5 linked regions of the Homo sapiens genome follow. The protein of the gene in region 3 purifies or fractionates together with the protein of the main gene of each other region. This does not show direct contact. Each region holds a gene or a part of one and is shown on either strand. Other genes may lie near its edges.

Region 1 (5,889 bases), on a different chromosome or scaffold from region 3:
TTGCCTTGCACCTCCAGGAGGCTCTGGGCCCACCCCTGACCTGCCTGACCTCAGCAGTTATGCGACTTTAAACCAGCACCCCCAGAGCCCTGCTTAAGCTCAGCTAAACCTCCCTCCTTGGAGGGGCTGGGGATGGGGTATGGTCTCCAGAGACCCAGAAAGGGGGCCACCCTCATCTGCTTCAGCCCCACTCACTTGAGTCTCAGAGTAGCTGAGGAGGTGGCAGTGCTGGTATGAATATTCCCGTGTGCTGCCGTGGAAACTGGCTTGGTGGAACCTGGTAGAGCCTGGGGGGAAGGATCCCAGGTCTCAGCAACCAATCCAGGGCTCTTTGCCAGCCCTGGGCCTTGGGAAGGTCTTTCCTACCCTGCTGAGCTAGTACTCACCCCGACTTTCCAGAGGAGGGGCAAACCGCCCTAAATTCCCGGCCATCCCTCCCTGACCCCAGGACAGGGTGGGGCAGGAAGCCTGGCTCTAACCAGGGGTCTGCAGGATCGGCCCCCTTCATGGTGCTCTCCTGGTTTTGAAAGGCATCAAGGCTTTGAGGGAGCCACCCTCAAAGTCCCACCTTGGAAGCAGCAGAAAAGAGGCTGCAGATTTTCCAAATGTGATAGCCAATACTACGCAGCCTTCCAAGGAAAGAAAGGTAATTCAAAATAGCTCACAGTCGCACTGCCCACCACAAACCTATTCAATGCAGAGCAACAAAGGCAGAACTCCATATCAGCTGTGCTGAGCCACTGTAAGCATGGGACACTCACAGCTCAGAACCTACAGCGCACTGGGGCACCAGGGAAGCAAAACGCCTCGACTCTTCCTGCCTCTTGACCCCATAATTCTGTTTGGGTATTATGCTTCAGGAAAATAGTCAAGGTGGAAACGAAAGAGTGATGTGTACAGAACATCATTCACACTGGGAAAGAAGGCAGCCCGGGAGCAAGCCAGAGCCACAGGGGAGGCTGCAAGCAAGGAGGCTGCCCACACCTGTGGCATCGTGGCAAGAATGAGGGGCACGCACAGGGTGGCCACGGCTTCCCAGGCTGATGGCCATGAGGGTTTTTTGCATTTTTTTTTTTTTTTTTGAGGAGTCTGGTTCTGTTGCCCAGGCTGGAGTGCAGTGGCGCAATCTTGGTTCACTGCAACCTCCACCTCCCGGGTTCAAGCGATTCTCCTGCCTCAGCCTCCTGAGTAGAGTAGCTGGGATTACAGGCGTGTGCCACCATGCCCGGCTAATTTTTGTATTTTTAGTAGAGACCCGGTTTTACCGTGTTGGCCAGGCTGGTCTTGAACTCCTAACCTCAAATGATCCACCCACCTTGGCCTCCCAAAGCGCTGGGATTACAGGCATGAGCCACCGCACCCAGCCAATCTTTTTTTTTTTTTTGAAACAAAACAGCTTAAGCTTCTAACATCTCATGTAAAGGACTTCTACATGACTGAGGAAGGGGAGTCTCTTTCAGGTCAATCTTTGGGGTGGTAGGATAGAATTCTGAGAATGCAGTGAGTGGCTGTGGCTCCCTGCCTGGCCCCAGGGATAGCACTTTCCCCTCCTAAGAATCCTGGGTCAGGCAGGGCAGTAAGTAGGCGGCCTGTACACCTGAGTCCCCAGTCCCAGGGTTCAGACCTCCAGACCCCTCCGTGCCCAAGTCCACGTGGGGCCCACAACTGAGCAACCACTGGCCCCAGGGGAGCCAGGCCAGCAAGGGACAAGGGTTCAGTCATGGCTGACTCCCCCTGGCCAGGCCGCACTGGCACCTCCCTGGGCCCCTCCCTGGCACTGCTGCTGGTCCTCACTCCAAATCTGGGAGGAGGGCTCACCACTCCCATTGTGCAGAGGAGGAAACGAACAGCCGGCCTTTCTTAGGGTTAAGCATGGTGAGTGCATTGTAAAGCAGTGCCAACCGTTTGAGCCCGAAGAGTTGCCAGGGCTGGCAAGGCAGCTGGAGCCAAGGGATGAGGAGGGTCCTACTGGGAATGGTCAGAGGAGGCTCCCTGAGGCAGAGACATCTGAATTGAGCCCTGAGTGAGGAACGAGAAGGTGGCGGCTATGTGCAGGGCTGGGGAAGAGACTTCCGAGCGGAGGGAAGCAGTGCAAGAGTCCTGGGGTGGAAAGAAGTTGCTGGCTGTAAGACCCCCTAGGACAGGGAGGGGACTGCTGTCAGGGAGACAGCAAGAGGCTGGTGCAGGTGATGAGGGGCGGCTGGCGGGGGCCACCCAGGCACTCGGCTGTGATGAGTGGCTTCGACTTCACTGCAAGAGCAATGGGAAGCTGATGCGGGGTCTCATCAGGTGAGAGATGTGATCTGACTCTGTTTTTAAAGGCCCCCTGTGGCTGCTACGTGAAGCCTGGACTGTGATTTAGGATGGGGGTTAGGGGTGAGGGAGGGGTCCCCTGGACGCTGTTGCTGCTGTCTGGGTGAGAGATGGCGATGACTGGGGCTTTGGGTGCTGACTGCAGAGTAGTGGGGAGGTTTGGGATGTGTTCAGAGGGAAGCCTGGGGCCTGCCAGTCCCTCCTCTGTCTTCATCTGTTGGACACCCTGTGGCCTTCAGAGTGCTCCTCAGTGGGCCCCCCTTCACAGCCAGGGCTGGGGCCGGCTCTGCCCGGGACACCTCAGTGACAGCGCTCCTCTCGCCAGCTCTGCTTCAGGTCTCTATCTGTCTCCTCGGCTCAGCTGGGCACTCCCGGGGTAGAGCCTGGTTCCAGTCTGGGGGCCCAGTACCTGGTACCAAGCTTGGTGCCAAATTCCCTCCTAACAGGCTTCACTGCAACCAGGGCTGGTGCTCAACACCAATAACTGACGCTTCCCAGCAAGGCCCACAGCTCGCTCTGGGGCGTGTGGAGGCCGGTGGGTGCTCCTGCACCTATGCATCTCTGCAAAGCTCCTCGGACAGGCTGGCCGTGCATCAGCAGCACTTCCTTCCTCTGCTGGAGCCTTGCTCATACCCTCACCTCCTGCTCCCCCAGGCACGCTCTGGACCTGCCGGGAGCCCCAACATGAGTCCACTGCCTCAGTGAGGCTCCTTCTGCTGGACCTGACACCTGATGCCTGACCCCCTGGCTTGGGGCATCCCCAGGCACCTGGACAACTGTGGAGATCAGGGACAGGGACACATGGCCCCAAGTCTGCAACAGCCAAAGGCCTCAGCCTTTTTATTTAATTTGAGATGTAATTCACATATCATAAAATACACTGTTTTAAAGGTTATGTAATTCAGTGGCTTTTAGTATATTCATAAGATTGTGCAGCTGCCACCACGATCTAATTCCAGAACCTATTCATCACCCCAGAAAGTATCTCCATACCCATTAGCAGTCGCTCCCTGGGCCCCTCTTCCGTCAGCCCCTGGCAAGCACTAATCCTCTTTCTGTCTCTATGGATGTGTCTATTCTGGATATTTCATCAAAATGGCAAAAGGCTCGGCATCTGTCTAAGCTACAGACTCCAAGTAGAGCTCATAGAAGAAGCCACAGCTCAATGCAGCCTCATATCAATTTTGGATATGACAAGACTGACTACACTGAGTTTGAGCCTGAGTTTGCCTAAGGAATGATGCCTTACCCATCCCAGAATCCCCCCAAAGTACAGCCTAAGATCAGCTCACTATCTCCCCACTCACCACCTCCACCTACTTTCAGGTCTCAGAGCAGAGCAGAGAAAACCAAACCAAAGTCCAGGCAACACAGTGAGACCCATTGCTACAGAAACAAAAACAAACTTAGCCGGGCATTGTAGTGCATACCTGTAGTCCCAGCTACTCAGAAGGCTGAGGTGGGAGGATGGCTTGAGCCCAGGAGTTTGAGGCTGCAGTGAGCCAAGATCACACCACTGCACTCCAGCCTGGGCAACAGAGTGAGACCTTGTCTCTAAAAAAACACAAACACAAACACAAAACAAAACAAAAAAACCCTGGTTACTGGTCTAGGCCAGTAACTGCCTGCAAGCCTACATCAATCAGGTGCCTGACAGTGTTCATGGAATAAACTTTGACCTAATTTTTTCTTCCTCAAACAAGCTTAAAAGAAGCCAACTACCAAAAAGAAGGAACCTTTTTGGAAGAAAAAAAAAAATGTGTCCCGTGGCAGTTGGCTGTGGGGTGGTCATTCAGCCTATTGCTCCGGGCAAGGTTCGAGCTGGCCTGTTTTGAGGTCTCTAACACAGTAGCCACATGGGCATCCTACCCACACATGGGCAGAGCAGGTCCCTGGTATAGGCTTTCCCTGCTCTTGAGGGAGGTGCAATGACTGGCCTCAAGCCTCTCAGCATAAGTGTTGACCACATAGGTGCCCTCAGAGAGGGCCGGGCAAAGGGCAAGGGGGCCTGGATCTAAGGCCTGTGGCAGGGCCTGAGCAGCAAGCTGTCTGTCCTTTAAAGATGGGCTTGGGAAAGTGACCAGCTTTGGAAAAATCTTCCAAAGGCAGTTTTTCCTCAGGGCCCTTGCAAGGGGCTCCTGACCCAAGAAAAGAAGATCATTCCTGGTTCCAGACACATGAACCTTGAATCCAATAATAAATATGCTTCTAAAATGTGGGGGTGGATTCACTTTGCTTGGTAAAACCCAACCACATTTTCAATGCCCACACGTCTTCAGGTAATGCAAGCAAATGCTCTGACTTGCTATGTGTTTATAACTGGCAGGTTTGCTTAAAAGAGGTTCTCCTACATTCACATACAGCTTCCTCACTGAGTGTCACTCCAACTTACACCTCTGCCTCTGTCCTTTTCTGCAGCCCCACAGAGCAGCTGAGGCCAGGGCACAGAGAGCCAGTGTCACAGCCCGTCCTTTTCCTCCTCCTGTGTGGCCAGAAGCCAGACAGTGGAGACTGTGGCTGCGCGGGGAGGAGGGCAAGGGGATTTGTACCTATAGGAGCAGGTGCGATACATAGAAATGTATCTGCTGTAGCTTGAGAAAGACTGAAAGGTGAAAAATAAATGACCCAGGCCAGTGGTGGTGTGCCTCCTCCACTGTCCTGTTAGAGCCTACTCTTGACCCATGTGGCCCAAAGGACACCAAATGGTCCCATCACCCATACCCTGACAGCAGAACGAAGCCCTCCCTGCTCCAGATACTCTCCCAGCACTTGCCCACACCATGAGATGACCTCCGAAAGGAAGCCTTTTCCCTGTGCTGCTGTGGAGCCCCGGGAGGCTGGAGTAGAGCCTTGGGCCTAGGCCTTTTGTCTAATCATGGTTCCACGGTGACCCCAGCCCCTATGCAAGTGGCACACCTGTTGGAAGTTTGGCACTGGTGGGTTATGTCAACCTAGTCCCAAATCTAAGGGTTTATTTACATCTTGTAGGGATCCAAAACGCATCTTTGTTAAGCATGGGCTCACACAGGGTGAGTTCTCTGGATGTAGTCACTACATCAGCGGGGGAATGCTGGGGGGCACACCCCCCATCTCACAGACTTGGAAGGAAGTGAACCACCTCATATACCAAGCCACCCCAGAGCAGAAAGTCGGATACAGAGACTACTCGAAAAACATACTCATTTTACAGATAAGGGCCCAAAGGGCAAGGAGCTCATTTCTAGAGCTAGCCATAGAATAGGCTTTCCAGCCTAGGCTTCTGGAAAGAAGCCTATATGTCTTCTCATTCCCACTGGCTTGGCATGCAGCAGCTCTCAGAACCACCCTCTTCACTCCTGGTCTGAAATAGCCTAGCACTTAACTCTCCTCCCTCTGGTGACCCCACTGTAGCCATGCGAGCCTCCAGCCTGCCAGCCCCACCTGCACTGGGCTTACATTCACACCCAACACTCACTTACCACAGTCCTCCAAACCTTCCACGTACCTTCACCCCAACTTGGACCAACTGAGGAGAGTGTGAAACACGAATAGGAATTTCTTTAAAAGCGCAGCTGTACTGCTCCAAAACACTCAGAA
Region 2 (5,607 bases), on a different chromosome or scaffold from region 3:
TCTTGTCCTCCTAATCTCCAGGTCCCCACACCAAAGTTGTGCGGCGTATCTTCACCAACAGCCGGGAGCGATGGCGGCAGCAGAATGTGAACGGGGCCTTTGCCGAGCTCCGCAAGCTGATCCCCACACATCCCCCGGACAAGAAGCTCAGCAAGAATGAGATCCTCCGCCTGGCCATGAAGTATATCAACTTCTTGGCCAAGCTGCTCAATGACCAGGAGGAGGAGGGCACCCAGCGGGCCAAGACTGGCAAGGACCCTGTGGTGGGGGCTGGTGGGGGTGGAGGTGGGGGAGGGGGCGGCGCGCCCCCAGATGACCTCCTGCAAGACGTGCTTTCCCCCAACTCCAGCTGCGGCAGCTCCCTGGATGGGGCAGCCAGCCCGGACAGCTACACGGAGGAGCCCGCGCCCAAGCACACGGCCCGCAGCCTCCATCCTGCCATGCTGCCTGCCGCCGATGGAGCCGGCCCTCGGTGATGGGTCTGGGCCACCAGGATCAGCCAGGAGGGCGTTCTTAGGCTGCTGGGATGGTGGGCTTCAGGGCAGGTGGGGTGAGAATTGGGCGGCTCTGAAGCAAGGCGGTGGACTTGAACTTTCCTGGATGTCTGAACTTTGGGAAGCCTTTACTGACCCTGGGGCTGGCTTTTCTGTTTCCTGTACCAGTAGGAGATCAGAAAAATGGAGCAAAGTGGTAGGTACTTTTTGTGAAGACGGCACGGTCTTCCCTCTTCCCTCAGTCCCAAATCCTTCCCAAGTAAGAGGCTGGAGTTGTCACTGCTTTTGGCCTGGAGTTTGGGATCCCTGTCTTTCCTAAGACCTGGGGTTGTCAGCTCTCATCTGAGGCATCCAGCAGTCTCTGCCTTGCCTTTAGCCCCTCCCAAGCTGGCTGGGGTGGCCTGTGTGGCCACTTCTGTCCATATTTATAGGTACCCAATAGCTGCCCATTTCGTGAGCCCCATCTTCACCCAGGCCTATGTTGATCCATCCAGCTTGCCAGATGCTGCAGAGTCACAAGCCTCGAGGTGCCTTCTTCAGGGCCTGGTTGAAGAAGATGATCAGTGGACAGTCTGCTCTAGATGAGCTGGGCCGGAGGGTCAGGAAACCCAGTCGCCCTTACTTCTTGCCCTGGGGATCAAAGTTCTGCTTTCTCCCCAATGAGACTTGCCTTCCTAAGCCTGTGGCTGTGGAGACAATGTCTGCAGCCCTGAGAAAGCCCTGTCGGGCTTTGTGTGAAGGCAGAGAAAGGGACAATGATAGTAGAGTGATATGGAGCAAGAGATATTTTGGGCATGTGGGCTTCAACTCCTCGACATCACTGTTCATGCTGGCGAGTGAATGCCAGTGTGCTGATGGGCGTACGCTGGTGCTGAGTAGATGCGCAGCCCCATCTGTGCATTCTCCTGGATGCTTAGAGGGATTTCTTTGCTGTAAGATGTCTGTTTGCTGATGGTCTGGTCTATGTTCCGAATTGAGCACAAAACCTGTCCTATGAATGCTTTGCATTTGGAATTTTTGCTTGACTTCAGTTATTGGTGGAATCTTTAGCGCTCAATAGGACCAGGATCCAGCCTCACTTCTAGGGTATGGGAAATCCAATCAGAGACCAGGCCCTGGCTAAGACCCAAACATATGCACATTCACTTAGCAGAACCTTAAACACCCCTCAGTTGTGCAGCTTTTGGTCATCAAGGGTGCGTCTGGGAGGTTGGTTTAATGCAATAGAAGTGCTCCCCTCTGAAAGTTGTACATGAAATTTTTGTAAATCACATCCTTATCCTTCATCTTTTAAAGAAATAACCACTGCAAGTCCTTTTGTAAAGTGAAGAATCCTTTTGTAGAATGAACCACTGCCCCTTCATTGATTTCCTGTGTCAATCCAGATGGTGGGATGTGGTTTTCTTAAGGTGAGGCCTGTCTGTGACCTGCATCTAAGCCCATGGGACAAATTGCACAGAAGTCCTGTATGTCTGTCATTGTACCCTTAAGTCACCCTAGCCCTCTCCCTCTAGGCTCTGCCTTCGAGGTCAGAGGAGAGATAGCCTGTGGCCCTGTCCTGCCATGCAAGAACTCATCACTGTGGCTGTCTGGAAAGCCCCCCCTTATAGTTTGGGCTTCAGCCTAGTGGCTTGTCCTCACCATGATGGGGCCCTAATTCAGCCATGTACAGACAGAGAATATGTCTGCTCCTTTCCCCTTCCTTTTAAGTAAGGTCCAATTCTCGAGCTTGGGGCAACATTGTTCACCTTTGTAGCACTCAGGCTCTCCATTCAATTTCAGGCTCCCCAGATCATGTTTTGGTGAAAATTAGGGTTGGTTCCTTTCCAACGTTTGGAAGATCCTGTGAGGAGCCCCATCTGTCTAAAGATAGAGTCATTGCTGTAGGATCTAAGGCTGTTTGCTTCACCGTGGATTCGCTTGAGTTAGGAATGAGAAGTAGCCACAGTATGGATGGGTGGATGGGTTTTATGAGATGGATCACATATTTTATTAAGAACTCAAACTTCTGGCTCCCTCTTCTTTCAGACTTGCCATGTGACTCTGGCTTGGCCTATCTCCTAGGGCTATGGTGTGGACTGAATGGGATCATGAAAGTAGACAGTTTTGAGAACGTAAAGAACTTTTTCTTTTCCCTCAATCTCAATCCTGCAGTGGGGTTTCGCAGCCTGAGTCCACGACCTAGGCAGTAGGCCGGTGTGCCTGACTGCCCAGCATTTGGGTAATTTAGATTGTAAACCGCTTTGGCCTGAGTTATTGAGATTGTCCTCATTTCTCCAGATTATCTATTTGTGTGTGTGTGTGTGTGTGTGTGAGAGACGGTGTCTTGTTCTGTCACTCAGGCTGGAGTACAGTGGTGCCATCATTGCTGTCTGCAGCCTTGAACTCTGGGCTCAAGCAATCCTCTCACCTCAGCCTCCCGAGTAGGGAGGACCACAGGTGTGAGCCACCACACCTGGCTAATTTTTACTTTTTTTTTTTTTTGGTAGAGATGGAGTCTTGCTATATTGCCCAGGCTGGTCTTGAAGTCCTGGCTTCAGGCAATTCTCCTGCCTTTGCCTCCAGAAGCACTGGGATCACAGGTGTCAGCCATTGCACCCAGCCCAGATTGTCTTAATTTCTATCTTGTTCCAAGGCCAGGGACAGTAATAAGAATGGAAAAGAGATATGGGAACACTGGCAGACTGTGTAAAATGTAATGCAACTACCCAAAACAAGCCTGGTAGGAAAGGGCAAGTCTTTAGGTCTTTGTAAGAACTAAAGAAGATCTGTAATTTTTATTTTCACCCTCTGTACCCCATGACCTTATCCTTCCTCTCCTTCCTTGTTACCCATGAAAAACTGGCAACATTCCAAGAATAGCATCTGTACAAAGGGGAAAGAACATAAAGGTAAAACAAAACAAAACAACATTTTGAGAACAAAGATGACCATAACCACTGAAGGGAATCACATCTTTTAAGACAAATTCATATTCTTTTATTTGTTATGGCAGATGACAAGATGGTACAACCTTTATTCTTTTCCAAAATAAAACAAAGGGCACAGCATCTGTAGTCAGCCGACAACTATTTCGGCCTTTTGGGGGTGGGTCTGGCCGTACTTGTGATTTCGATGGTACGTGACCCTCTGCTGAAGACTTGCCCCCTGCCCGTGTACATAGTGCATTGTTTCTGTGGGCGGGCCCAGCACTTTCCGTCAACGTTGTACTGTATGTGATGAATTGCGTTGGTCTCTGCATTTTTCTGCAGAAGAGGAGTAACCGCTCCAGGTACCTTGACCTTTGTACAGCCCAGAGGCCAACACTGTGGGTGTGTGACTCTTTAGCAAAAAAAACCCATGTGGTGATGATGTGTATATATATGTGAGGATGTATCGGGAAGATTTCTAAATAAAAGTTTTACAAAGGGGCCTTAGGACTCTGTGCTTGCATTGCACCCCTAGGCCTGAGACGGGATATTGAAAGAAAAGTCATGGCAAGAACCTGTTTCTCCTGACATGGGGAGCCTCCAAGACTCAGCTGTAGTCTTAGGAAGTGGGATTCCACCCTCAACCCTGAAGGCAGGCCTGGTGGGGAGGAGACAGCCTTCCTCCCCAGGGTTTCCATTCTTTCTCTCCACAGGCCTCATAGAGGGGGCCTGTCCCCTTGGCTTCATGCACCCATGCTTGTATCTCAGGAAGCCTCAGCAGACATCCCCTCTTTGTGTTGGGGTGAGCTTCCATGGCTGGGACAGTTGTATGTATCCTAGGTTCAGGACAGATTAAGGCCATACCATAGGAGGGCCCCAGGTTCCCTGATGACTCAACGGCTGCAGCGGCGGCTGCAGCTCTTATGCCTGGCTCTTAAGGATTGGGGACTCAGAGATGAAGTCTGAAGGTAATGGAAGTCGAGAGTGGAGGCTCTGTGGCAGGCTCCATATCATCTGGGAGGACTTCCCTGGAGGCTCAGGAATGGAAATGTGGTTTAGATGATACAACCCTTATTCTTTTCCAAAAATAAAACAAAGGGCACAGCACCTGGGTCTGGGGGAAGCCACTGCATGTGGACCATTTGATCCTCAGGGATTTCAGTAGGTCATGCAGGCACTTCTAATGAAGTATCATGCCTTCCTTTCTTTCTTTCATTTATTTATATATTTTTTCAAGATATGGGATCTTGCTTCTTCTAGCCTTTGCCCAGGCTGATCTTGAACTGAGCTCAGGAGTTCAAGGGCCATCAAGGTGAAAAAGAAACAAAAGGTGCAAAAACCAGAAGGTTTTTGTCTCAGTCCCTTGAGTAGTTAGGACTACAGCATGTGGAACTGGCACCCTGTTTCATTTAACAAATATTTATTGAGCATCTAGTATGGGCCTGGTATTGTTCTACGTACCGGGGATCCCACACTGAATAAAACAAAGATCCCTGTTCTTGTTCTGGTGGAGCTTAACTTCTAGCAGGGGAGACGGTAAACACACAGACACACACAACTGTAATAAATATGTTGATTCTGTAGTAAGTTACAAAGTGATTAGTATTAAGAAAAAAGTTGTGCCAAGAGGTGAGTTCAAGGACCTCACAGATAACTCTGGCTTTTTTGGGGTGAGCCTTGTTCATCTTGCTAGGCTCTGACTTGGCTGCTCTTGTCCTCAGGGTGCTTCCAACCACAGATAGGAGGGCAGAGGCAGGGTAGTCCTTGGGGACCATGCTCTGCCCTGTAGAGAAGCTCCTTGGTTTTTGGAAGCTCCCAGGTGTGCCTCTCCCTGGCACAGGACAAGGAGGTACCTGGGATGATAGGATGGTGAGATTTAGCCGTGGGGTGAGCTGGCTGTGGATCTCAGCAGTGGTGGTGTTGGCCTGGTCTGTGCTCACAGGTGAGAGGAGCAGTATGAGGAAGGGACCTGTGGTTAAGGGCTTGAGGGAGAGAAATGAGAAAGAGCAATCAGAGAGGAAGGAGAAAAACAGAGAGTGTGCTGTTTTAGAGACTGTGGCGTTTCAGAGGAAAAGGGTGAGGGAAGTGGTTAGGCAAGTCCAGCGCAGCTGAGTGGTCAGGCAAGAAAGGCCTGCAAGTGTTGATTGGATTTAGCAATATGGAGGTCACTGATGACTTGGATGACAGTGACACCAGGGGAGGGA
Region 3 (5,889 bases):
TTTGTGAAGCCGGCCTTAGAGACATCGAGGCTGGGTTAGCTGGTTGGGTGTGTTGTGTCAGTGACCAGTGTGGAGGGCTAAGTGGGTCCTACTCAACCCAAGGGAAGCCCAACTTTGGGTGCATTTGAGAATAATTAGAATTGTGTCTCAGGTGAGACGGAAGCACAGAAAACAGTCGTTTACAGATACCAGTTTCTAGCGCCTTCTCAGAATGGAGTTCTTGGCACTGTCTTATAGCTTAGAACACGGCTTGCACCAGCCTTCACTTATCCCCTTTTCATCTCCTATCTCGATTGCTTTGCATTCTCTGTTGCTTGTTGTGATAAAATACTTTCCAAAATAAACTTTCAGTTGAATTGGCTTTTGGTTGATGGCAAGCTGAAACGCCGAGCCGCGCCTAGCGCCACTTGGCAGCTAGGGGGAGCTCGGTGCCCGTGTCATGGCTTGGCGCCTCCGCTACAATGGGCTAGGAACGGGCTTCCATCAGCAGCGGCGGCAGTTTACGTTGCTGCAAAATACCTTAAGTGTGAAGTTGTAATATTGATTTTCCAGCAGAGATTCGTGCAGGACAAAATGAGAATATAAGTTTGAGAAATCTATTTTCAAGCTATCGCCATTGATTTACAAGCCCTCACTTGGCAGATGGGGGCATTTTCTTTTTCTTTGATTTTCTTTCTTTCTTTTTTAACAATTAAAATTGTGAGTTTTGAATGGGTGTGTTTTCCCTGATTCGTCCGTGGTCTTGACGTTCTGAAAATTCTGCTGCGTTATTAAGGCGCTGGTGATCGGGCTGGGGAGGTCTGGGGAAGGCGTACTGCTCATTTCTGTCTTGCATGTCACAGACCCAGGGAACAGTCGAGAGTTGCTGCTTTTGGGAGTCGTGTACCTAAAACAGCTTGATGAATGGAAATCCTTTTAGCTCAAATTTTATGACACTTGGATTCTCAATTCCATTTATTAGGTAATGTTCCCACTGAACTAAGGGAAATAGCACCGTTCCCCAAAGATTTAAAATGCCGACTCAAATAACATGTAAAACTTTGTTTGGAAAGAGTATGTGATTGCTAGAGCCAGTCTTGATCACATCTTTCACCCCAAACAGTTGTCCTTTATGGATGGCTTTTAATGAGAGGATTTCTCCCCTAAACATGTAATCTAGTGATGGGGAATATATGTGCTTTTGATCATAGGATTTCTAGATTTATAATGTCTTCTTTCCCAAGTTGAAGAAATCTGCAGACTGCACCCTGAGTCTTATGCTAGAGTTCAATATATGAGCAGAAGAGGTTACCCTGCGACAGGAAAGAGTGCTTTATTCTAACCTGAAAGAGAAATAAATTAGGTCAGACAAAAGCCTAGCGCTGTCGTCAGCTGGAGAAAGAGCCTTCACTCTCCAGTACACAGGGCCAGCAATTTATCTGATGATTTCTCTACTTCATTTAATGTTTGAATCGAGCCAGTTGTAAGCATGTAGTGGCAGCGAGCTCACTGGACCACTCAGAGATGAAGAGGCACGGTGACCTCGAAGTCTTGGGCCGGACGGTGGTCTCTGAGCTGCAGAAAACCGTTAAAAATCAGTTTAGCAATCTCCAATCCTTTGCCTTAGAACTCAGGGGAGTTTCACAAGCTGTAACTAAACACAGATCATAGATAAGACAATGCAGGAAAAAATATATGGGGGAGGGAATGGGAGGGGGTCAGGTTCTTGTCCGTTGGAGACTCTCCTTCATCTCCCATGGCTTAAGGATGGACCTTCTGGCTGCCTGGTTAGGCCTCACCTTTAGCTGAAACTCTCCAAAGACTTTGGCCTCGAGGTTAATGTTGGCTTCACATCTGGGGAGGACAAGGAGAAAGTAAATGGTCTTTGGGGACTGTACCCTGCACCACATGGTTGAGTTATTGATACCGGCTGAGCATCTTTCTCTGAAGACGGTGTTAGCTGTAGATACACTTTTGTATTTATTAATGGGGAAGGGTACAGAAGACACTAGGAATGAATGTCTGTGTCATCCAGCTGCCGTGAGTATGCTTTGTCACTTTGCGGCACTCTTTTGACTCAGGCCATTTGGCCTGAGGTCCTGTGCGGCACTCTTTTGACTCAGGCCATTTGGCCTGAGGTCCTGTGTGCTCTGTCCTGTCCCTACTCCCTGATCCCACTCAGCTTCCTTCCGGTCCCAGGGAGCCAAATGTCAGGGAGATGTGCTCAGGCTCGGTCCCCCTCTTGCTCCATCCCTCCCCAAGAAACGCCGTGTGCTGACTGCCTCCCTTGAGCAAGTATGTTTCCCAGGGCGTGGGTAAAAAGTGCCGAGAGCAGGCTATTTGGAGACGCGTGGAAAGAGAAGGACACATTTCTTGCGTCTTCTGCACAAGCCAGTGAGGAGGGTGAGCAGAGCAGCCTTGTTTTTTGCTGGCAAAAGTGACACTAGATGGAGGCTTGATGAATGGTGCCACATTCACGGGATGTTGGTCCAGCATTTTGACATATGCTAGTCTTTTGTGCAGTTGCTGAAAATCAAGAAATTCATTCTTTTTTCTTTTTCTTGTGGCAGCTGATAATTTGCTTGGGTGTTGAATAGCCAGCCTGAGCTATTTTACTGTAATGAAATCCCAGACCACACAAAATTAAGTCACTTCAAAGTAAAAAAAGAAAAAAAAAATCCTCTCTTTTACATAACTTCTTTTTTATGGCCCCCTTCCACTTATTTTATTGAAATACAAATAAATACATTTGTGAAATGTTCTAATGAGTTTTCTACTAAAACAACACGCAGAAATGACTCAAGAAAAGTTGAGTGCCAATATTATTGTGATTAACATGTGCCTCAGAAATGGATGCACTGCTAAGAATTAAAAAAAAGGGGGGGGGCGGTGTCATGTTTAAATTCCTACCTTGGAAAAGAGATGTCGAAAGCACTCCTGCCCTTGCTATTTGCTGTTGGCCTCAGATAATCCAAACTCCTCCAGCTAAAGCCTTGAGGTCCAGTGTCCTGTGTGGAAGCCCTTCTTTTCTTCCGCACCTTTGAAAAAAGCATAATGTTAAATAAAAACAAATCTCTTCATTTGCCCACAAAGAGTGCTTTTTTATCACATCGTTAGGAGCCCGTTGTGGCTCTGAAGATTGAAGGCATTTGCAGTTTTATAGAACCTGCTAAATGTGTTGAGAAGGATTGCTATTGTGGTAAATCTTTTCCTTTTCTTTTTCTTTAAAGCGCCTATTTTATTTGTCAAGACTTTTATTTGTAACCTTTTAGTAATGGCTGAGACCTGTGAATATACCTGAGTATGTTTTCCTTATTCACTTGTTCTTTTTTCTGCTCTTGTGCTGGGGAGACCCAGGCTCCTGGGCTCAGTTTTTGGGGTTCTGGAGAGGTGTGTGCATTATTCTTTTTTCTGCTCTTGTGCTGGGGAGACCCAGACTCCTGGGCTCAGTTTTTGGGGTTCTGGAGAGGTGTGTGCAGTGGGGGAGAGAAGGCGGTTGGACTCCATAGAGCAACTGAGGATATTTTTCAGGGAGCTGCTTAAGCATCCTAAAATTAGGCTGGAGTCCTGCAAACAATCTGTACACAGGGAGACCCTCCCCAAACATTCGACTTTCCCGCCTGGAGTCTGTAGACCAGAAGGTATGGGAGTGAGCCTCTTCCTGCATCTAAAACCTCTTCACGGATCTGGAGTTTCCACCTCCTGGCCTGCAGGCCAGGCCCAAAGTTTCCGCTGCTGGCGGAGTCAGCGGGACCCTGGTCATTTTCCTGGGAAGCCCACACTGGGAAGCATGTTTTGCACCGGCCGCCTTCCCTTGCTCTCCCTCTCACATGTCAGAAACGGCGATCGAGGTGTGTGCCTCAGCTGAGGAGGGGCAGACAGGACCTCATGGGGTGGTGGCTGTGGTATGTATCTGTCCCTCCAGGGAGGCAGCCTTTGGAGGGTGTCAGGAGGGTGCAGAGCTGACCTGGAGCAGGCTGGACTCCTCTGACTGTCTGCTGAGAGGGTCGAGGGTCAGGACAGAGAGGTGTGATCTGGGTCTTGCTTCCTGCTTCAGACTCCGCCTGGCTGTGCCTTCCCAGGGTCCCCACCCCCAACTTGTGTCCTAATAACCCTTCGAGACCCCCTGTGGACATCCTCCTGACACCAGCCTCCCTCTTATCTCCATTTCCTTCTCTGCCAGGCACTTCATTATTCCCTCCGTTAGGGGAACTTCATAAAATCTCTTGTCGTGCCTTTAAGCGTCATCTAGTCATAGATTATTTTCTCCACCAAGAATTGATTCCTGCTCTCTCCCCCTCCACCCTTCTCCTCCCCCCTCCCTACGGTTGTTATTTTCTCTTGGATCCAATAAATTAAAAATGGATGGCAGCTCAGAAAGTGTTGTGCTCCGTCGAGTGTGCGTGTGGTGGCGTTTCCGTGTCGCCTGGAGTCCCAGCCCCTCCCCAAGTGTTCACGGAGAGGAGATGAAAAGATCTCTTCGTAGATTATGGGTAAGCATGGGCTCGCTGGCAAGAGCTCCCTCTTCGTAGGAAGCAGGTGTAAAGTCTCCAGTCGGATGCAGAGCTCGGGCGGATGGATGCTGAACATTTCTTGTAAACATGCGTACACATCATGATGGCGGTTGTGACGTTGGTGGCACACGATTTTAAGAGCCTGGGACCCATCCCCCCACATCCTTCCCTTTCCCACCCCCGTCATCACTGAAACAATAATTCTGTGTATGTTTCTCCTGGACTGTAGCTTAGCCATTAAAGATAAGAGAGTTGGATTTGAATTAATGCAGGGTAAGGAGGAGCAGCAGCCCACGTACTGTGTATGTAGCAATGCACATGTGTGTGTGCAGGCAGCCACGCACATGCCTGTGCTCTGGGGACAGCAGGCAGCAGACCTCTCGGCTGGAGTTCCCCTAAGGGCAGGTGCATGGGCAGTTGTTAGAGATGGGCCAGGGAGGGCGGGGTCCTTGGCACCCTGTGTGTGGGGGAGTCACTGGCCAGGTAAGGCCCTGCTGAAAGCTTGCAGCTGCTGGGGGCTTGTTGGCTGCTTGGCTGGGCCTGTGTTAACGATGTCTTTCCATTTCTTTCTTCTGACTCAAATTCCTTCCCAGCAAAGCCGAGGCATGGGGAAGTTTGTCTTGGGATCAAGTGCTTCCCCTTTCACTTAACAACGATGTCCATTATTATTTGTGATTGCTTCTAAATGCATTTACCAGCTGGGAGGAGGCCTGGCCTTGTAAATAAAATGTGGTTTTGTTGTAAAAGAAAATCTAACTCGTGTGTTTGTGTGTGTGTGTGTGTAAATACAGATTTGTCCCTGCACTTTAGGATTTAGCATTTCAGAATCCGCCTCAGCCCTCTGATATCTGCCTTTCGAACAAGTTGTCTGCTGCATCCATTCATTTTTCCTCTTAATGAGTCAAACATTTCAGCAATTGCTCTACTTTATTCGGCTCATAATATATTGAGAGCAGCAATATTCTGCAGGGCTGCCCGACACTTGGGGAGCTTTTCATGAAAGCAGAGATCATCTCAGAGGAAAACCTCATCTTGGCTTTATTTTTTTAAGGCCCGAGTTTGCTGGACAAGGCTGCATGAGGGGCTGGCCTGTAGGGTCTGGGAATTTGAAAGACTGTTTTCATTGGTCTTTTTCCTGGTGCTTTTTCGTCTCTGGGTGGCAGGTTGGACCACTCTGCCTGTTAGAACAGAGGCCTGGCTCTCTGAGGCTGTGCAGAGCCGGGAGACTCAGGTGTCCATAGGGCAGAGAAAGAGGGGTGTCACTTTGCCCTTCCCAGGGCTTGGCTTTCTCCTTTTATTTCTTCCATTATCGATACAGTTCTAAGGAGGGACACATGCACACATATGCAGGCACCCTACACGCCTAGCTTGGTATCTGCCTGCCAGCGGAAGTGAA
Region 4 (6,515 bases), on a different chromosome or scaffold from region 3:
TTCCAAACATGCCTTCACTTTAGAGTCTTTGCGTGTACCAATTCCCTCGGCCTGGAATGCTCAGCCACCTGATACGTACCTACTCTCTCACTTCCCTCAGGCCTTTGCATGCCTTACCTTATCATGAAACAAAGTCCACCCATTTCTTTTTTTTTTTTTTTTTTCCGAGACACAGTCTGGCTCTGTCACCCAGGCTGGAGTATAGTGGCGCGATCTCGGCTCACTGCAACCACCGCCTCCCGGGCTCAAGCAATTCTTCTGCCTCAGCCTACCGAGTAGCTGGGATTATAGGCGCCCACCACCACACCTGGCTAATTTTTGTATTTTTAGTAGATACGGGGTTTCACCATGTTGGCCAGGCTGTTCTCGAACTCTCGACCTTAGGTAATCTGCTGGCCTCAGCCTCCCAAAGTGATGGGATTACAGGCATGAGCCACCACACCCAGCCCACCCATGGTCACTTTCTAGCCTTTTTTTCTGTTTATTTTTCTTCACATCACTTGTCACCATGTGATATGTTTTTTTGTTGTTGTTCATTGTATCTCTATTTCTAGTGGAATAAAAACTCTATGAGAGCAGAGACTTTAGGAGTTAAGTAAATACCTTAACTGTGTCCACCTTGCTCTAAAGGAATTAAATAAATCATAGTAAGTTTGAACTTTGCATTTTAAGGATTTACTATCTAAGACACACTATGGCAAAATATATGTGTAAAATGAACATTAATCCATAAAAGGAAATGGACATTGAAGTCTTCTCATCACAAGGCAAGTCCAGAAAACAATAATGATTTCTGAACAAATATATCCCAGTGAACAATATTTTCAAAGTAGAAGCGATAAATACAGTCTACTTCTTATACTAATGATTATAGTCTGTGCCCCATTTTTCTGAAAGTGTTCTTAAATAGGCCCTGGACAGTTATTTAGAAGCCAAATTATTATAAAGTTGTTTAATAGTCATGAAATGGAACCCAAGGATGTAGACACTATTTAAATGCCATTAAAAATGGCATGAAGCTTTTAGCCTGATGTGTCTACCTTCACTCTAGAGGACCCTGCAACTGAGAGACAGGCCAGGGCAGCCTTCTCCCTGGACTATGTCGGGTTAGGCCGGGATCTGCCAACTTCAGCTTCTGAGTTTCCCTTTTCTTGCCTTTGGTTCCTGCGGGCCTGCTCTCCTGGGTATAAGCATCGTCTATGGATAGGGTACGGCTCATATACATGTCTGCTGATGATCTTCAAATGAAGATGCCACCCAGAATCACATAAAATGTATTTATCACTTTGTAGTAGTTCTTTATCATCATGTATCTTTTTGGACAAAGGATTCAAAGTAAAAGGGGTGAAGTTTTAAAAATATTTACGTTTTACTATTAAGAGATTGATCTCCAGTCTCAGAAAAGTGGACAGTCTCACTGTCCTAGGGTTACCATCCACCTCTTTTGTGATAATCCACCAAAGAGGTTAAAATACAATTGATTAGGTTTCCTCTAATCACATTTCAGCCCCCATATCACCTCAATTGACGTCGGAGTGTTCTCACAGTTTTGCAGTTTCCTGATTTACGAGCACAGATGGTTAATTACATCCACCATGGGTTTGACAAGCAAGGTTACTAGAAGTAATCTTAAATGTCTTCATTCAAAGCTCTTGGGAATCCCTACAGCAACGAAAATAAGGAGGGGGAAGAGATTAATTAGGTTTCTAGAAGAAAGGTGGAGTTTGAGGTGGAACTTAAAAAAAGAGCATAATTTCACAGGAAAAAAAAAACGCTTCAGGGGCTGCAGAAACAGCTAAAGCACATTTGGAGGGCCTGATGATCCACGGAGCAGCCCCTGGGATGGAAGCGGTTGGTGCAACGTGAAGTAAGGTAAACCGAATCCATGCCGTGAAGACTTTTAAACGCCAAACTGAGGCGTCGGAACTTTGCTCCGCGGGCATCGAGGAGCCATCGAAGGTTCTCAGCAGGTGAGTGGCCTAACTGGATTGGTCACTGCAGTGATCCACCTTACAATTTCTCCGGCGCTCTCTGCCGACCTCAGCCGGCGATCAGGCCGGCTTCGCAGTAGGTGGCGGCTGAGCGCCCCGGCAACCGAAGCGCCAGGCCAGCCCAGGCCACGCCGCGCCGTGCGGGATGCTGACCGTACCCAGGCGGGAGCCGCCGCGCCGCCGCCTGGCGCTGCACCTGGGCCCGGCCCGGCCGCCAATTGGACGGCTCGGGGCGACCCCGCTGTATCGCGAGACGAGATTGGCAGCGGCGGGGCCTCAAGTGCCCCCGCGCTGGCTTTGTATGCGGAGCCGCCTGCCGGTCCTTTAACAATGGGCGGCGCGAGCGTCCAGGCGCTGGGCTCTAGCTGAGGCCGGCGCTTAGCGGCCCACTGTCCGCAGCATGAGCGGGGCCGGCGTCCGCCGCACGACGGCGGGGCTGGGGCTGTGAGGGCCGCGGTTCCGGGTAAGGGAGCCAGCGTGGGGCCGGGCGGCCCGGCAGGCCTGGGGTAGGCGTGGGGCAGCGGACCCTCCCGGGGTGAGGCGCAGAGCCTGGCTGGCCCGGCCTTTTGTTCCCCTTTCTGAGGCCGCGCGGAACGTGCGTTTCTCGGGGCTCCCGGGGAGGAGCAGGCTCCCGACGTCCATGCGGAGACCCGCGGCCAGGCAGACGCTCACCCCCGGGCTTTGCCATGGGAGCGTTTCCCCTCAGCGGGGCTATGAGCGTGTCACCTCTCCCCGCTCCTCAGGGAGGGCGGGAGAACTCCAGCCCCGGACGCAGGGAGCCCCAGCCGGGCCTCCCCCAGCTCTTCCCGAGCTCGCACCTGGCTCCGCGCTTTGGCAACTCAGGGCCCGAGTGGATCCCCTTTTGCCCGACACATAGTCGAGCAGTGAGTCTCAGAGTCCTTCGGCTCTTCCTGCGGGGGCAGACCCGGCTTCGCGTGTGGCGTTGGGGGAAACGACTCGGGTCGGGCTGGGTTGAGGAAGAGTCAAGTGAAGATGAGCAGCCACACCGGGTGGCCTGAGGTCACACCCCCCGGGGAGGGGGCGCAGAGGGTCGCGGGGGAGCCGGCAGTGACCGCGCCTGGGGTGTGTCTTACAGACTCGAGTTGCCGCGTCGGGCTGGGCGCGCCGCCGGGTCCCATGGAGCTGGAGGGGCAGTGGTGGCGAGGACAGCTGGCCGCCGATATTCACCAAGCGCTTCGCTACAAGGTAACTCCGAGGCCCGGCCTGCCTTCTCCTTCTGTGTGTCGCGCCAGTTGTTCTGAATCTCGGCTCTCTAGAAGGTCTAGTCAGGTTCTTTACTCACTATCTTCCGGGCCAGAAAAGGCGAGTTTGCTCATTTGCTCAAGGTTAATTAACTTCTTGGCTCCTTCTCTGGGATGTATCAAAAGAACCTGCAACCTGAATGAGTAGGGAGATGGTAGTTGGGCCAGGGAAGGTGGAAAGGGGCGTTCTGGCTTCCAGGTGGGTCATGAATTTGATCTTGTATTTTAAAAGATATATACACTGAATTTTTGTTGGGCAGAACAGCCCTCTTTGTTCGAGAGTTGCCGTTGCATGCAGCCAGTTTAAGTCGCTTTTGTACATAAATTCCTCAGCCTTTCCGCTAACTTGCCGTGAGACGTGGACAAGTGAAATTTCTGTTTCTTGATTTCCTCATCTGTAAAATGAGGAATAATGAGTGTGCCTTATGATTCTGGCGATTGTGAAACTTAAGTTAGTACCGTACATGTGCTTAGAAACTGCTCTTGGTATATAGTAAGCACTAAGTGATAACTTCTTATCACTTACCCCTCAGGATTTGGGCTGTTCAAAAGCCCTAAAGTGGAGGGAGTTGGCTGCCCCTTCCTGCTGATATCAAAGGCAGAAAGTAGACTTAATAGATATTGGAAAAAAATACTTTTCCAACACAAAGCAAAGTCTGTGTATTGTTGCTATTAAGTAACGGTTTTACTCTGCATGTGGCAAGGCAGATTAATGAGACATTTCTGCCTCTTCGATAACCAAAAGAGAGACCAGATCCAAAATGATCTCTAGCTTAACTCAGTTTCACCTTGGATAAAGAAAGCCATTTGTTAAATGTAGAAAATTGAGAAAGAAGCAAAACAGCTGACTTTCAATAAAAAGGATTCTGACTCTTGGGGTTGAGATCCTGGAATGATAATGAACTTTTATCTTGAGTTTCTGACCAGGTCAAGTAGATTGGAAAACCTAATTCTGACTTAAATTGTTACCCTTTTCTAGGCCTGAGATTTCTAAATGCTACTTAACTAATTCTGACATTCAGTCTCTTAGATTCACTAAAATACAGTTCAGCCCCCTAGGAGATGGTTTATACCACATAAAAATTCTAACTAATGGGATCTCTGGAGTGTTAGTTAGGAAAGAGTTGCAGTTTCTTGGAAAATTGTCCAGATACACTTTTGATCTTTTTTTTTTTTGGCAGATGTCATCTTTCAATGTGAAATGTTTTCTTTTTTAAAAAAATTAATATAGTTGCACATATTTTGAAAAGTGTTTTAAGTGTCAGCCTTTTTATCCCTCTGGTATGTAGTGAAATTAATTAGTTGATATTAAGAGTACTTTTTTTTTGAGTTGGAGTTTCACCTGACCTCAGGTGATCCACCTGCCTCGGCCTCCTAAAGTGCTGGGATTACAGGCATGAGCCACTGCGCCCAGCCAAGAGTATATTTTTTAATTGGCATGAAACTTAAAAGGTTTTTCTTGGTGATTTCCATACTTTTCAATCATTTTATGTGTAGATCATTTTAATTCGTGAGTGATTATCTGCATTTTGTCAATTGAGTTTGGACATGGGTTCTTTGTTTTTTTGTTTTTTCTCCTAGATTTAGATTTGTTGAAGGCTTTTGTGGATTAGTTTCTGGAGCATCCAAGGCATAAGACCCAACCTTATACTCACTCAAGTTGCTTATGAACTATCAGAGGACAAGGTAGCACAGGGTGTGAAGGAATGCCACTGAAAGTTTTATTGGGCCACCTATGGCCTACTGCCCTGGGTTGTCTTTATGTTTAAGCATTATGCAAACCATGGTTCTTACTGGCAACACTTTATACAAGAATTTACATTAATCTGTAAAACTTAAACTTGTGGAACTGGAGAGACCACTGTTTGTAATACACTGAAGGAAACTTAAAATGGACTTTTCTCCTAGAAAAGACGTGGTAATTCCAGGCTATTAATTGGTGATTCAGTCGGATAGTCATCTGTTTTTCTTCAACATGTTGATCATTTATGACATACATGATATCATGCCAGGTGTTAGAGCAATAACAGTGAACGAGACATGATCCTTGCCTTCATAGTCTAACCTTATCTATAATTTAGAGCATCCACATTTAGGTCTTCCTTTGGGCAGTTGCCATTGAGATACTGCAGAAGGTATTCTATGTTTAGGCCCTAGGTTTGTGGAGAAATATTTGGTGTGACTAGCATTGTGTTTACTAGGGAAGAGTGAAAATGACAATGAATGGAAATCATGCCAACTATCCACTCCCTCAAAAAACCCCTACAAAGCAGCTGTCACCTTACACCCTTTTGTCTCCTTTCTTCTCATTATTTTGCTGTGTATAGTTAGTGTCATAGGCTGTTTGGGAAAGTGTTTTTAGGAGCCTTAATGACAAATGGGAACAATTCTAGCTTTGTGAGAAACATTAAGAAAGTGAAGTCCATCAGTGTTTTCCAGGTGTTTCCAGGGAGTCTTTAAGACCATGTTCAGGCCACTTTTTGGGAAAACCTGCTCTGGTTTTGCCTTTTTTCCCCAACTCCCTAATCCCTGAGCTAAGTTAGATTTTCTTCCTAGGTGTTGCCATAATAACCTGTGGTGACTATATTGTGTGATAAGCTCTGTATTTGATTCACCTGCTAGAGATAGGCTTGAGACTGTTTTTCCAGCTTTTATGCCTGGGTTAGTATAGTGTCTGCTGCATGGGAGATGCTCAATAAATGTCACATGGTGGCAGCAAAGGTAAAGTTGCAACTCACTTACACCATTGTAAAGATCCAAAGAAAGAGTTAAGGAGAAAAGAAAAATCCTAGGAACTACATGAGAAATCGGCATCTTCCCTTTATGTGGAAAAAAAAAATTTTTTTGGCCAGGCATGGTGGCTCACACCTGTAATCTCAACACTTTGGGAGGCTGAAAGCAGGTGGATCACTTGAGTCCATGAGCTGGAGACCAGCCTGGGCAACATAGCGAGACCCTGTTGTACAGAAACTAACTGGGCGTGGCAGTGAGCGCTTGTAGTCCCAGCTACTCCAGAGGTTGAGGTGGTTGGATTGCTTGAGCCTGGGAGGTGGAGGGTGCAGTGAGCCAAGATGGCACCACTGTACTCCAGCCTGGGCTACAGGAAACCCTGTCTCAAAAAACAACAATTGATGTATTCTTTGGCTACACTACTAAATTACATTGACTATTTTATCCATTTATCTTAGGTAATATTAAGTTAGGTGAATATATAACTTCCCTTTTTTGTTTATCGTAAAATGTATCAACATAAAACTTTTTT
Region 5 (4,060 bases), on a different chromosome or scaffold from region 3:
CCCTTTCAATTCCCCATAATGAACAATTAAAAAGAAATCGTGTATTTAAAAATATATCTATTCACTGTCAACACTTCTAGCAGATGCAACGTTTGGCAAATATAGCCTTTATTCTTAAATCAGAATTCACCATTTAATTACACCAACAAAAATTAAAACTGTACCAAGTGGGGTCAACTCAGGGTCTTTAAAAAACATCCCAATTTCAATTCCCCGCCCCCCAAAAAAGAGTGACCACAAAATATCCCATAAAACACTGAATAATTTCCTCCTGGACTTAGTCAGAAGTCTGTTAAGCACCAGTTCTTTTCTGGATATTTAATCCTTCCCTTTTCCAGATCACAGGCCATGTTGAAGTAATAAATTTGAAAAGCAAATAATAAGAAATCAGGAGGGGGAGAGGGAGGGGGAGGAAGACAGCTGCGCAGGAAAGTTGGGTCGGGGGAGGGGGCCGAGCCAGACCTTGGGAGGGGGAAAGAGCTCAACCTGTTGGTAGGTTGCAGGATTTTTCACAGTATTTCCAAACAACACCTTTTTAAAATTGCAGGCGGACGTCGGGAAATATGAACATTTAAAAACCAAAGCTGGCCGGGGAGGGTGGAGGGGGGAGGTGAGCGGGGAGGTGGGAGGGGCTTATTTCCGAAAAGGCAGATTCGAGGGCGAACGTTTCGACGAACTCCAGTAATTAACCGGCATAGACCACTGACGAGTAATTCGATCCTGGGGAGAGGGAGTGAACTAGCAATGCCAAAAGTACTATCAACTCGATCAAACCGAGGAATTCTGGAAGGACTGGCAGCTCCGAGCCCCGGGATGAGTTAAACGGGAAACCATTCATTTAACAAAAAGATCCTTAGATCCTTACACCTACCTCGAAAGCTCGAGAGCCTGGCACAGCACTAGCTGCCCTCAAAAGTCTGTTTGATTACCCTGCTCTCGCTTTGGCAACACAAAGCCTCGCCAGGCGGCAGTGCGCCCTCCCTCCCCGCTGCGCCGTGGGCACAGACTCCCCAAAATAGTTCCCCTCGGTAGGTACCACGGCGCTGAGGTCGGTCAGCTGAGGAGGGGAGCCCGCAGAACTGCGGTCACACATGAAATGACAGAGCCGAAGGGAGGCGGCCGCCCCGGCGCCCAGTGACAGCGGGCTCACCTCCGGCGTCCTCCCGGGAGCGCGGCGAGCGCCCCCGCGGCCGCCCAGAAACGTGCCGGGGAGGCTCTGTCCCCTCCCCGCCCTCCCCGGGAGCGCCGTCTGGGCACGGAGAACGCTGGACCCGCAGGGCCAGTGGGCGAGCACACACCCCTCTGCCCTCCCCTCCCCCGCCCCCGTCCCACACACCCCCAAAGATCGCGCAGGAGGACGTCCACTTTGCGTGGAGTAATTGCAAACTAGAACATCAAATGGCTTGTCCGGGGGGAGGGGGAGTGGGCGAGAGATAGTTGTTAATGCTTAACGTGTTTGTGCCTGTTACACCACCGCTTTGAAATCCGCCCGGGCAGATCTGCAAGTTATTTGAATGTATTATTCCAGTACCTGTCATTTATCACTTTATTCAACACGTCTTTGCCAACTCAATAGCTTTTGATCTCATTCTGCCTCCATTTCGTAATTTCCGCCCTCTTAAACATATCAAATACTTACTTTGAAAAAAGAACAATATCGAAACCCACCGAAAGAAATCCACCCAGACACGACCGAGCCAGACACGAAGGTAAATTTTCAAAAGGCAAAAAATATAAAAAGCATGTGATGTTCAAGAGGCAATAGCAGGAGAGCAAATGAACACACACACACACATACACACACACACACACACACACACACACATCCTTGAACAAAACCCTTCTCGAACAAGTTATTTGATCTTGACTAAAATCAGCAGTTGGATCCTCTTTGTAAAGCTGACAGCCAAACTCTGACAATGGCAAAATACTCGAGCCCCAGCTAGTGGCGCTACCCCTTTAAAAAAGGAGTCGATCCTGCTTGCCTGCAGAAGTGAATACAGTATTTTCAAGCTTGCCCTGTAATAAGCATTACTAGGGGGAAAAATAATAAAGAAAGAAGAGGGGGACAGACAGGTTTACCACCTCGCCATGGTCGCTATTTCTGCCCTGGGGAGTGTCTTCTGGGAGGAAATAAAGTTTAGAGCTGGATAAAAGTTGCCGGCTGGTCCTCTCTTCCCACAACAGCTGGAGCTCCGCTATGCAAATCGGATCCTTTGGCGTACATCTTACAAAGAAAAAGTCGCCAAGGGACAAAATTCTTGGTTTGCCTTCAAGGTGGAATTGAAAAGCCTTGTAGAAAATGTAAGGTCCGTGCAAGCCACACGGTGAGCCGACCCACTGCAGGGGGGGAAAAAAACACCAAATAAATAATGTAGCCATCAGAGCACAAACATCTATTCCCAGACACATTTACACACAGACATCCACTCTCTTAATACAGACGACCCAACAGATATAACGCTGGGTGGAAAAATAATAGCACCCACAAATTTTCTGCTTCCCTAAAAAAAAAAAAAAAAAAACTCAGGGCCCCCCACCGCCACTTCTACCCACCTCCCCATTTGAGGCGGTAAAATTACATTATGTATGTATGATCAGTGCAGGGATTTTTTTAAACAATAAAAATGATTTTGGGGGATGCAGAGGGTAAAAGTTTGGTGAAAAGTTTGTGGGGGGTGTGGGTGGGTGCAGAGGTGTGGGTGAGCTGGGGGGTTGGGGGGTGCCGGGGGGTGCCGGGATCGGAGGAGCGGAGGAGAGCGAAATACCTGGAGTGAGTTGGGCTCCATCTCGACGTTCTGAATTGATTGAACTCAACATTCTCTCCAAACTTGTTGGCTTGAATGGATTGCATCAGGTCCTGGCAGGGAAACGCATTCTCTGCCTTCAGCCGGCGTAATGTCTCAATATAAAACTGAGCTCTTGCCTCCCTTCGGGCACCGAAATGATTGAAAATATGTCCTAATATTTCTATAACGACTCAATTTTCAGCTCCTGAAAAAACTATGTGGGTTTTCTTCCAAAGATGGATTGATCAAATTCATAATCGAGAGAAAGGCGCCATACGATCTCGGCGGGAAGAGGATGGATCAAGGCAAAAAACACACAAGAAGATTTGTAAAAATAAAAAGCACCCTAAAACTGTGTGGAGATGTGATTCCTCTCTCTCTAACCGCTCCTGTCTGGGATATCGTCTGATGAGATTTTTGGAGGAGAGGAGGGGTAGCGAGCTCCACTGTGCATCTGACAGGACCTGCTTGTATATGTCTAATATAAAGAACATTTCCTGCAGAGATTCCGGGGCGCTGCTCCTCTTTCTAATGCTTCTTAGCAGATTTGCTGTTATTAGACATGTAGATTTGTTTGATAGTTAAATTACGCTTCCTCACTGCCATGTTTTCGAGAACTAATCTGTTAAATTATCTTTTGATGCCTATTTACATGGAAGGGAAAAGTGGGTTATCGATTATATAAACATATAAATATTAATGCATTTGTTCGCTTCGCAAAAAAATACTCAGCAAAAAAAAAAGAGACAAGTGAGCAGTGCACACACATCTTAGGATTTCGCAAACAATATTGAACGGACAGCGACTGCATTTAGGGACTGGAACAATAAACGATGCATGATAAATCAATAAATGCGAGAAGCGAGTCTGCTCAGAATATGAATTCAGGCTCCCGGTTCTGCGTGTGCATTCTTTAATTTTGAAGTATATACACTAGTACGTGTTTACAATGCTGATGGACGCCAAGGGCGCTCTCAAATGATAATGTGTTTATATAACCCAGCGCTACAGGAATAATATACCGACTCCTACCCCACCCCCATCCCCTCCCCCGCCAAAAAAGGGAGGGGAGCTTCCTCAATAATAGTTTGAAACTGAAAAAATCCATTTGCAAACTAGTTAAATACAACCAGAAATTAAGCTGTTGAAAACCGGGGGCATGAACCGTAAGACAATAAAGGCTTTAAATGTGTATATTTATTGTTCTGGAGCCCTGGAGCATTGCGAGGTTTGCATGCACGGCTATTATGCAAACACAGAGAAACTTAAGA

The links.
Region 1: the proteins of BCL11B (region 3) and TCF7 purify together in Homo sapiens (affinity purification with mass spectrometry; one large-scale study listed by BioGRID and IntAct). This does not show direct contact.
Region 2: the proteins of BCL11B (region 3) and TAL1 purify together in Homo sapiens (co-immunoprecipitation; one study listed by IntAct). This does not show direct contact.
Region 4: the proteins of BCL11B (region 3) and CCNJ purify together in Homo sapiens (affinity purification with mass spectrometry; one large-scale study listed by BioGRID and IntAct). This does not show direct contact.
Region 5: the proteins of BCL11B (region 3) and ARID5B purify together in Homo sapiens (affinity purification with mass spectrometry; one large-scale study listed by BioGRID and IntAct). This does not show direct contact.

What each region holds. Positions count from the first base shown.
Region 1 is NC_000005.10:134,116,779-134,122,667, reverse strand, and holds part of TCF7 (transcription factor 7), read right to left. Parts: intron 1-5,889. UniProt on the Homo sapiens protein: Transcriptional activator involved in T-cell lymphocyte differentiation. Necessary for the survival of CD4(+) CD8(+) immature thymocytes. Isoforms lacking the N-terminal CTNNB1 binding domain cannot fulfill this role.
Region 2 is NC_000001.11:47,214,589-47,220,195, reverse strand, and holds the end of TAL1 (T-cell acute lymphocytic leukemia protein 1), read left to right. Parts: intron 1-21; coding exon 22-476; 3' UTR 477-3,905; downstream 3,906-5,607. UniProt on the Homo sapiens protein: Implicated in the genesis of hemopoietic malignancies. It may play an important role in hemopoietic differentiation. Serves as a positive regulator of erythroid differentiation.
Region 3 is NC_000014.9:99,261,266-99,267,154, reverse strand, and holds part of BCL11B (B-cell lymphoma/leukemia 11B), read left to right. Parts: intron 1-5,889. UniProt on the Homo sapiens protein: Key regulator of both differentiation and survival of T-lymphocytes during thymocyte development in mammals.
Region 4 is NC_000010.11:96,041,266-96,047,780, forward strand, and holds the start of CCNJ (cyclin-J), read left to right. Parts: upstream 1-2,317; 5' UTR 2,318-2,454; exon of another isoform or gene 2,455-2,984; coding exon of another isoform or gene 2,985-3,128; coding exon 3,129-3,197; intron 3,198-6,515.
Region 5 is NC_000010.11:61,900,439-61,904,498, reverse strand, and holds the start of ARID5B (AT-rich interactive domain-containing protein 5B), read right to left. Parts: upstream 2,801-4,060; 5' UTR 2,790-2,800; coding exon 2,769-2,789; intron 2,341-2,768; coding exon 2,086-2,340; intron 1-2,085. UniProt on the Homo sapiens protein: Transcription coactivator that binds to the 5'-AATA[CT]-3' core sequence and plays a key role in adipogenesis and liver development.